Linked DNA regions of Homo sapiens: region 1 is linked to region 2. The links come from fine-mapping of genetic effects on gene expression. A gene starts in region 2. The other region holds a variant in brackets. All regions are shown on one strand. Distances are from middle to middle. Region 1 overlaps ZBTB3 (zinc finger and BTB domain containing 3). Region 2 holds the start of WDR74 (WD repeat domain 74).

Region 1 (5,371 bases), 90 kb after region 2:
GATGCTAGGCTGCTCTTACCATCCTTAGATGGCAGCTCAGAAGGTTGGTGGCACCTTATCACCCCTGCTGGGTGACAAGAATAAAGGCTCTGCCCAGGCTGAAAGTTCCTACCCTTTTTTTTTTTTAATCTTTTATTTTTTTGAGACAGAGTCTCACTCTGTCACCCAGACTGGAGTGCAGTGGCGCGATCTCGGCTCACTGCAAGCTCAGCCTCCCCGATTCACGCCATTCTCCTGCCTCAGCCTCCCGAGTAGCTGGGACTACAGGCGCCTATCACCATGCCTGGCTAATTTTTTTTGATTTTTAGTAGAGACAGGGTTTCACCGTGTTAGCCAGGATGGTCTCGATCTTCTGACAGATCTGACCTCGTGATCCGCCCATCTCCACCTCCCGCAGTGCTGGGATTACAGGCATGAGCCACCGCGCCCAGCTGCCTTTTTTTTTTTGAGTCTTGCTCTGTCACTGAGGCTGGAGTGCAGTGGCGCAATTTCAGCTCACTGCAACCTCTGCCTCCCAGGTTCAAGCGATTCCTTTTTTTTTTTTTTTTTTTGAGACAGAGTCTCACTCTGTCCCCCAGGCTGGAGTGCAGTGGCGCGATCTTGGCCCACCACGCCCGCCTAATTTTTTGTATTTTTTAGTAGAGACGGGGTTTCACCGTGTTAGTCAGGATGGTCTCGATCTCCTGACCTCGTGATCCACCCGCCTCAGCCTCCCAAAGTGCTGGGATTACAGGCTTGAGCCACCGTGCCTGGCCTCAAGCGATTCTCTTAACTCAGCCTCTTGAGTAGCTGGGATTACAGGAACGCGCCACCACGCCCAGCTAATTCCTGTATTTTTAGTAGAGACAGGGTTTCACCATGTTGGCCAGGCTGGTCTCAAATTCCTGACCCCAGGTGATCTGCCCACCTTGGCCTTAAAAAGTGCTGGGATTAAAGGCGTGAGCCACCATGCCCAGCCTCCTACCCTTTTCTTTGCCCAGCCAGATAAGCAGGACTTTATGGGGCAAAGCCTATGTCAGCTCTCTCCAAGGGCACTGGGAATTTTCCTGAGGTGTAATCGCTTCTCACTGTATGTTCTGGAACATAAAGCTAGCAATGAAGGTATTTCTTTGAACTGGTGTTGGCTGGTTTCTTCTAAAAACCTGCATGCTTTCATACCTCTCCTGCAGTTCTTTTTTTTTTTTTTTTTTTTTTTTTTGAGACGGAGTCTCTCTGTCACCCAGGCTGGAATGCAGTGGCGCGATCTCGGCTCACTGCCAGCTCCGCCTTCCTGGTTCACACCATTCTCCTGCCTCAGCCTCCCTAGTAGCTGGGACTACAGGCACCCACCACCAAGCCCGGCTAATTTTTTGTATTTTTAGTAGAGACAGGGTTTCACCGTGTTAGCCAGGATGGTCTCGATCTCCTGACCTCATGATCCGCCCGCCTCTGCCTCCCAAAGTGCTGGGATTACAGGCGTGAGCCACGGCTCTCCTTCAGTTCTTTTTGGAATGTTACATCTGTACTTGGGGTAGGGGTAGGGGTAGGGGTCAGACTGCTCATGAGGAAAAAAGTGGGACAGGCAGAGGGCGATGTAGCCTTTACTTAGGAGAAGTATAGAAATTAAGGAAGCTTATAAAATTATGATTTATTATTGCAGTCGAGCTGTCTTCTGGGCTTTATCAGACATTTCGTATAAATACTCATTTAATCCTCAACAACATTAGGAGGTATGAGGTCCACTTCCTGTTTTGTTTGTTGTTGTTCATAAACCTGAGACTTAGAAATCAAAGTTAACTTGTTCAGGGTCACAGAGGCTAGTTAAGGGGCAAGCCAGCATTTGAACCTGGCTTGCCACTGCAAACACCCTGCCTGCTATACTGGTTAAAAACATTGTTTCTTCCAGGTGTGGTGGCTCATGCCTGTAATACCAACACTTTGGGAGGCCGAGGTGACCAGCCTGCCCAACATGGTGAAACCCCATCTCTACTAAAAACACAAAAAAAATTGTCTAGGTATGGTGGCTCTCACCTGTAATTACAGCACTTTGGGAGGCCAATGCGGGCGGATCACTTGAGGTCAGGAGTTCAAGACCAGACTGGCCAACATGGTGAAACCGTCTCTACTAAAACTACAAAAATTAGCCAGGAGTGGTGGTGGGCGCCTGTAATCCCAGCTACCTGGGAGGCTGAGGCAGGAGAATCATTTGAACCCAGGAGGTAGAGGTTGCAGTGAGCTGAGATCACGCCACTGCACTTCAGCCTGGGTGACAAGACCGAAACTCCACCTCAAAAAAAAGAAAACAAAAATTATCCAGGCTTGGTGGCGGGTGCCTGTAATCCCAGCTACTCAGGAGGTTGAGGCAGGAGAATTGCTTGAACCTGGGAGGCGGAGGTTGCAGTGAGCCGAGATCGCATCATTGCATTCCAACCTGGGCAACAAGAGTGAGACTCTGTCTCAAAAAAAAAAAAAA[A/C]AACAACATTGTTTGAAGGGCTGTTGGGGTGGCTCATGCCTGTTCTCCCAGCACTTTGGGAGGCTGAGGTGAAGGATCGCTTGTGGCTAGGAGTTACAGATTAGCCTGGGCAACATAGTGAGGCCTGCCTGTCACTATAAAATAATAATGAAAAGTTGAACTTAGTTAACCAAGAACTGTAAGTTGTTTTCTTTTTCTGTCCTTTTGTGTATTTGGCTTTGTTGCCTTGTTACCTCTGCTTTCCCCACTGAAAGACCTTTTGTTGATAGAACAGGTACTGTATTGATGATCTGAAATTTTTGCCTCAAGTTGTAGATATGAATTGACTTCTTTGAAGATGAGAAACTGGAAGGCAGGAAACACTAAGGCCCATAGTGGCTGATTAGTGGTGGGAGGTTGAGGGTCTGAGGTGCTGTGGCAATGATGGGTACTTGCAAAACCTAAAGCGAGAAACTCAGGATGAGAGGATCTTACAGTTCATGTAGTCCAACTCCCTCACTTGAAAAGTGTGACGACAACAGTCTAGGGAGGTTTAGGTTACTCACCTAAGGTCACGCAGGTGGTTACTGACAGTGGAGATAGCAAAGAAATGGGAGTTTGGGGTGCCATCATGGGATGGGGGCAAAAAAGAGCTCTGGGAATGTGTGAGGAGTCTGGCCCCGCCTGTGCTGTAGGAGGGCCTAAAGGTTTGCCTACAAACTTTTTCTTGGTACGTAAGGACATGAGTGCAAATAAAGCAGGAAGGAAAACAGAAATACGCTGGTCGCGGTGGCTCACGCCTGTAATCCCAGCACTTTGGGAGGCCGAGGCGGGCGGATCACAAGGTCAGGAGTTGGAGACCAGGCTGGCCAACATAGTGAAACCCCATCTCTACTAAAAATACAAAAAATTAGCTGGGCGTGGTGGCAGGCGTCTGTAATCCCAGCTACTCGGGAGGCTGAGGCAGGAGAATTGCTTGAACCCGGGAGGCGGAGGTTGCAGTGAGCCGAGATCACGCCATTGCACTCCAACCCTGGGTGACAGTGCGAGACTCCATCTCAAAAAAGAAAAAAAGAAAAGGGGGAAAATGACAAGTAAATATTCTTCTCTCTTTTTGAGTCTGTGTCATATTCAGCACTGTGAACCCTTACCAGCAAGTGACTATTTTTGAGTTACAGGAAGGAAAGGTGAGCAGCCATGTGGCTAAAGAAAGCTCCTTAACTAGGACATATGGGAAGCAAAAGATGGTTAACATTTTTCTGCTGAATGAATTCTACATTCTTTCACATTCTTTGTGTTGAAATAAACTTCTAGCTTATCTTTCAAATGGCTCCTAATTTTATTTATGCAAGTACGTTACTGCTTTAATTCCTTGATGAAACAAGGCAAGATATAAATAAATACAATAAAAGCTATTCTAGCTGGGTAGAACACCTTTTCAAAAGTCTTCCCTAGAGTAAATATCAAATCAAAATGCCTTTATGAATCAGTTGCCCTTAAAAGGGTGGATTTTACGGTCTGAATATCTCAATTTCAACAGAAACACAAAACAGAAAAAAAAAAACCTGGTTGTCTCAGAACATCAGTTCTTAAAATCAAGGCATAATAAATGGTCTATATGTGTAGACAATTTTGATGTAGATGATCTCTCCAGACAGTCTGGGGAACACAGGAACCATTGTATTGATCAGACTGTGGTCACATGTACTACTTAGCTAAAGAGGTTCTGTTCCTGGTGAGATTCTCCTGAGAAGCAAGCATTTGCTTTCAATATCCAGCATAAAGGGCATGTTTTCTTGCAGGTGGCAGTCAGGAATTTGCAATATTTTAATTAATTAATTTATTTATTTATTTTGAGACAAGGTCTCTCTGTTTCCGAGGCTGGAGTGCAGTGGCACTATCACGACTCACTGCAGCCTCAACCCCTCTAGCTCCCAAGCAGCTGGAACTACAGGCATGCACTATCACGCATGGCTAATTTTTGTATCTTTTGTGGAGATGACGTTTCGCGCTGTTGCTCAGGCTGGTCTCAAACTCCTGGGCTCAAGCGATCCACCTGCCTTGGCCTCCCAAAGTGCTGGGATTTCAGGCATGAGCCATCATGCCCAGCCTGCAAGATATGTAAAGCAGTAGCTATCACAGTTACAGCCACTGTGGCCTCGTTATTATTACTATTTTTTGACGGAATTTCACTCTTGTTGCCCAGGCCAGAGTACAATGGCATGATCTTGGCTCAGTGCAATCTCGGCTCACTGCAACCTCCGCCTCCTGGGTTCAAGCGATTCTCCTGCCTCAGCCTCCCTAGTAGCTGGAATTACAGGCTGCGCCACCACGCCTGGTTAATTTTTTTTGTATTTTTAGTAGAGACGGGGTTTCTCCATGTTGGTCAGGCTGGTCTGGAACTCCCGACCTCAGATCCGCCCCGCCTCGGCCTCCCAAAGTGCTGGCATTATAGGTGTGAACCACCGCACCCAGCCTCATTTTATTTATTATTTTTTTTTTAGTTTGATTTTTTTTTTAGACAGAGTCTCCCTCTGTCACCCAGGCTGGAGTGCAGCGGTGGCTGGGATTACAGGAATAAGCCACCATACCCAGCCTGTGGCCTCAGTTTATCTACTGAATGGTAGGAACAGTTTATGCCCATTTGTAGAGATGTGATCAATAATTCTTTCTCATTTCCACTGGTCTTAATGCTCCCATTCAGGGATTCAAGGAACCATAGGCTCCTGGGGATCAGCTCATCTAATTTCTAGTCTAACACTGAATCCTCCTTTTGCCAGTTGTTATCAAACCTCCACTTGAGGCCGGGAATGGCACCTCACACCTAGAATTCCAGCACTCTGGGAGGCCGAGGTGGACAGATTATTGGGAGGTCAGGAGTTCAAGACCAGCCTGGCCAAGATGGTGAAACCCTGTCTCTACTAAAAATACAAAAATTAG
Region 2 (5,345 bases):
GCCGAGGCGACCGAAGTAAAGGTATCGCTTCTCGGCCTTTTGGCTAAGATCAAGTGTAGTATCTGTTCTTATCAGTTTAATATCTGATACGTCCTCTATCCGAGGACAATATATTAAATGGATTTTTGGAAATAGGAGATGGAATAGGAGCTTGCTCCGTCCACTCCACGCATCGACCTGGTATTGCAGTACTTCCAGGAACGGTGCACTCTCCCTTCGGGGAGAGAACAACCGTTGTTTAATGGAAGATTTCGATCAGTTAGGGTACAAGCTAAATAGTTATGTTCTTGTTGTTTGAGTTGGATTAGGTGTTTTTATCGCTAGTGTGTTGAATGACGCGTGTTTGAGTGTCTTGTTGAGAGAAGGTTTTGTTTTATAACTGAGCACGGAGCGTAGTATCTCCATGTGGTCTTCAGCAATCTTCATACTTCAGCCTCTGGGGTAGTTGGAACTATTGAGCGCTTGCCACCACCCCCGGCTAATGTTTTCCATTTTTATTTCTTATTTATTTTTTTTGAGACGTCGTCTTGCTCTGTCGCCCAGGCTAGAGTGCAATGGCATGATCTCAGCTCACTGCAACATCCGCCTCCCGGGTTCATGCGATTCTCCTGCATCAGCCTCCCGAGTGGCTGGGACTACAGGCGCCCGCCACCACGCCCAGCGAATTTTTATACTTTTAATAGAGACGGGGTTTCACCATGTTGGCCAGGGTGGTCTCCATCTCTTGACCTTGTGATCCGCCCGCTTCAGCCTCCCAAAGTGCTGGGAATACAGGCGTGAGCCACCGCGCCCGGCCTGTTTTGTATTTTTAGTGGAGACAGGGTTTCACAACGTGTTAACCAGGATGGTCTCGATCTCCTGAGCTCGTGATCCGCCCGCCTCGGCCTCCCAAAGTGGTGGGATTACAGGCGTGAGCCACCGCGCCCGGCCTGGTTTCGCGTTTGATGTGTTAAACCTAGGTCGCGCTCGGGGTTTCAAGCGTGAAATCCTAGCACTTCGGGAGGTTGGGGCGGGCGGATTGGGTAATTCCAGCCTGACTAACATGGTGTGAAAAATCCCGTCTTCACTAAAAAACCAAAAGAAAAGTGAATCAGGCCTGGTGGCGGGCGCTCTAGCCTGAGAGACAGAGCAAGATTCCATCTCAAAAAATAAATAAATCTTCGCGTTAGATAAAGGGTTTACTTGTAAACTGGTAATTTGTTGCTTTTCTGTGTTAATCTCTAGGTAAAGTAGCGACTTCCCTCTCCTATTTACGCATGCGCTATTACTGTATTTCTACTGAGCGATGACTTTCTCTGCGTTTCTCATGTAGCATAGCACAGAGTACTTTTAGTTGTTTTTGTTTTTTTTTTTTGAGACGGAGTCTCTGACGCCCAGGCTGGAGTGCAGTGGCGCAATCTCGGCTCACTGCAAGCTCCTCCTCCCGGGTTCACGCCATTCTCCTGCCTCAGCCTCCGGAGTAGCTGGGACTACAGGCGCCCGCCACCACGCCCGGCTAGTTTTGTTTTTGTATGTTTAGTAGAGACGGGGATTCACCGTGTTAGCCAAGATGGTCTCGATCTCCTGACCTCATGATCCGCCCGCCTCGGCCTCCCAAAGTGCTGGGATTACAGGCGTGAGCCACCGCGCCTCGCTGTCCGCCTCTTGAAGAGTAAACGAGGCCGGGCGCGGTGGTTTAGTAATACCAGCTGTAATCCCAGCTACTTGGGAGGCTGAGGCAGAAGAATCGCTTGAACCCGGGAGGCGGAGGTTGAGGTGAGAGGAGATCGCGCCATTGCACTCCAGCCTGGGCAACAAGGGCGAAGTTCTCTCAAAAGAAAAAAAAAATCGTCGGTTTCCTTTTCCCATCTTTCTTTCGTGACTTATATTCCAGAACGAAGCCCCACACATCATTAATGATTTGAATCGTTTCTAAAGTGTTTCTTAAATCGTTTCTTAAATCGTTTGTTGTTTCTTGTCTAACAGTCCAGAACACATATTACATAATGGAGCCGGGAGACAGACTAGGGCTGGCTTGATCCGGCCACGCAGTCCAGGAAAGGTGCTTTTCACCCCCAAGTGCAAAATGATCAATGTATTCTTCCGATCTACATAAACAAGCACCTCCTGGTTTCATTTTCGTAAAGCAAAACAAGCATGGAAGCTTTACTGTTTCGGCTCTTCAAACTTCCAGCAACTACACTGCGCTGCATCGGACTCGACGCCCGCTGGTGACGCACACGCTGCGCCGGAAGTGTGAACTGTCTGCCTCCAGGCTTTGTCATGGCGGCTGCTGCTGCACGCTGGAACCATGTGTGGGTCGGCACCGAGACTGGGATCTTGAAAGGTGGGTGGCAGGCTCGGGCGTCGGGAAGTGCAGGGGTGCACTCGCGCCCCTGGCGTGACTGACGCCTTCGTCTCTCAGGGGTAAATCTTCAGCGAAAACAGGCGGCGAACTTCACGGCCGGAGGACAGCCGCGGCGCGAGGAGGCAGTGAGCGCCCTGTGTTGGGGCACCGGCGGCGAGACCCAGGTGAGTGGCCCCTGGTCGGGCCGGAGCTGGGGGCCTGGGGCGCAGCAGCCTCGCTCTCCTCGCCATCTTGCCCTTCTTTGCCGCAGATGCTGGTGGGCTGCGCGGACAGGACGGTGAAGCACTTCAGCACCGAGGATGGCATATTCCAGGGTCAGAGACACTGCCCGGGCGGGGAGGGCATGTTCCGTGGCCTCGCCCAGGCCGACGGGTAAGACCAATCCCCTCGCTAAACTCAGGGCCGAAGGGAGAGCGTTGATGCTCCCTGAGGATACTGGAATGATGGCGACAGGCAAACTCTTAGTGACACGGCTTTGAATGGGTGACAGGGACCTGGGTTTCTGCCTTATGTAGTTCATACCTGTAACACACATTTATTGAACACCTACTGAATTCCAGGCACTGGGAGAAGTACAGGGGCTGCCGGTAAAATTTCTGCCTTCAAAAAGTTCTCATCCTCTAAGGTTTTTCACCTGACTCCATTATAATCCTCTAAGTAACCATGGGCAAGTCATTTAATAGTTTTGTGTGTGTGTGTGTTTGTTTTTTGTTTTTTTTTTTTTTGGAGACGGAGTTTTCGCTCTTGTTGCCCAGGCTGGAGTGCAGTGGCGCGATCTCGGCTCACTGCAACCTCCGCCTCCCGGGTTCAAGCGATACTCCTGCCTCAGCCTCCCAAGTACCTGGGATTACAGGCGTCTGCCACCACGCGCGGCTATTTTTGTATCTTTAGTAGAGACGGGGTTTCACCGTATTGGCTAGGCTGGTCTCGAACTCCTGACCTCAGGTGATCCACCTGCCTCGGACTCCCAAAGTGCTGGGATTACAGGCGTGAGCCACTGTGCCTGCTTGTCATTTAATAGTTTTAAGCAAGGCTGGGTGTGGTGGCTCATGCCTGTCATCCCAGCACTTTGGAAGGCCGAGATAGGTGGATCACTTGAGGTCAGGAGTTCAAGACCAGCCTGGCCAGCACGGTAAAACCCCTTCTCTACTAAAAAAATACAAAAATTATCCGGGTGTGGTGGCTCATGCCTGTAATCCCAGCTACTTGGGAGGCCGAGGCTGGAGAATCGCTTGAATCCGTCCCGCAGAGGTTGCAGTGAGCAGAGATCGCACCAGTGCACTCCAGTCTGTGAAACAGAGCAAGACTCCATCTCAAAAAAAACAACAAAAAAAGTTTTAAGCATGCATTCATTAATTCATTATTAATTCATTTATATTTTTTGAGACAGAGCCTCACTGTGTCACCTAGGCTTGAGTGCAGTGGTGCATTCATGGCTCACTACAGCCTCAACCTCCCGGGGTCAAACGATCCTCCCGCCTCAACCTCCTGAGTACCTGGGACCACAGGCAGGTGTCACCCTGCCCAGCTAAATTTTTAAGTTTTTTATAGAGATGGGGTCTCACTGTGTGCCCAGGCCAGTCTCAAACTCCTGGGCTCAACTTGAGCTCAACCACCAACAAGGTGATGTAGCTCTGAAAGCAAAGATTAGGAAGGTGCTAAGTGGTTGGATGACTGGCCTTGCTTTCTTCCAAAGATGATGAAAGAGGGCTGTGAAGCAGGCTGCATAGGTTTGGTGGTGGTAATTCTGACAGGTGAGGTCTGGAAAGCCTGTGGGGGGGACTGGATGTCTGAACTGGTTCTTGAGGGATGGGTAGAATTTTGACTGGTGGAGAAGGGGATAAGGGTATTCTAGAAAGAGGGTACTGCCTGGGAGAGGCCAAGGACTGGAGGCATGCTACAGGGTACATAAATAGGATAAATAGCATTTGATTTGGAAGTTGATAACAAGGAAGCGTTTTTTTTTTTTTGTTTTTTGTTTTTTTTTTATATACGGAGTCTCACTCTGTTGCCCAGGCTGGAGTGCAGTGGCACAGTCTCGGCTCACTGCAACTTCTGCCTCCCAGGCTCAAGCGATTCTCTTGCCTCAGCCTCCTGAGTAGCTGGGATTACAGGCATCCGCCACCACGCCCAGCTAAGTTTTTTTTGTATTTTTATTAGAGACAGGGTTTCACTATGTTGGCCAGGCTAGTCTGGAACTCCTGACCTCAGGCAATCCGCCCACCTCAGCCTCCCAAAATGCTGGGATTACAGGCGTGAACCACTGCACCCGGCCAAGGAAGCATTTTAATACAAGATGAACACTATATTAGGTTGGGATTAAATGTAAAGGGCTTTAAGTGCTAGGTTGAGAGATGTGCACTTTTATTGGTGTTGGTGAGTTATTCATTTATTGTTTTTGTTTTTCTGAGAGACGGAGTCTTGCTCTGTCACTGAGGCTGAAGTGCAGTGGCATGATCTCGGCTCACTGCAACCTCCACCTCCCTGGTTCAGGCGATTCTCCTGCCTCAACTTCCCAAGTAGCTAGGACTACAGGCATGTACCACCACACCCAGCTAATTTTTGTATTTTTTAGTAGAGACAAGATTTCACTATATGTTGGCCAGGCTGGTCTGGAACTCCTGACCTCAGGTGATCTGCCTGCCTTGGCCTCCCAAAGTGCTGGGATTATAGGCGTGAGCCACTGTGCCTGGCCAAGTTATCAGTTTTTGAATAGGAAGTACCATAGTCAGCACTGGGAGCCTGTAGGAGTATGGAGGATGGATTGGAGACAGCAACTGGGAGACTTTTGCCACAGGTCAGGCAAGTCGATACAGAGCCCGAACCCAGCTAGGGAGGGTTGGCAGGTGTGAGAAAGAACATAGGCGCAGGCTGTGCAGATCCTGGGGAGAGACTTGCTTGGACTTCTCGGGAGGGATATTTTAAGCAAGAGACTGACATTTAGTGCCTGAAACTCAGAGCAAGGAACCCAAGAAGTTGGTGTTTGACTTTGACCAAG

Evidence for each region. PIP is the estimated chance that this variant, and not a neighbour inherited with it, causes the effect.
Region 1: its variant is fine-mapped to the expression of WDR74 in whole blood (TOPMed, PIP above 0.99).

Annotation. Positions count from the first base shown.
Region 1 is chr11:62,746,706-62,752,076 of GRCh38, reverse strand. ZBTB3 (zinc finger and BTB domain containing 3) reads left to right here. Exons shown (of 2, transcript NM_001370809.1): 2 at 1-1,114. Among named protein-coding and RNA genes, the nearest start is that of ZBTB3, 4.8 kb to the left of the region's middle. The variant A/C (reference allele first, on the strand shown) is at 2,453.
Region 2 is chr11:62,836,488-62,841,832 of GRCh38, reverse strand. WDR74 (WD repeat domain 74) reads left to right here and starts at 2,243. Exons shown (of 11, transcript NM_001369450.1): 1 at 2,243-2,326; 2 at 2,405-2,511; 3 at 2,598-2,719. The coding sequence starts at 2,263. It overlaps RNU2-2 (RNA, U2 small nuclear 2), which reads left to right and starts at 24; the gene lies at 24-214. RefSeq lists enhancers at 1-60, 61-674, 1,050-1,219, 1,850-1,989, 2,060-2,399 and 2 more and silencers at 30-149, 870-919.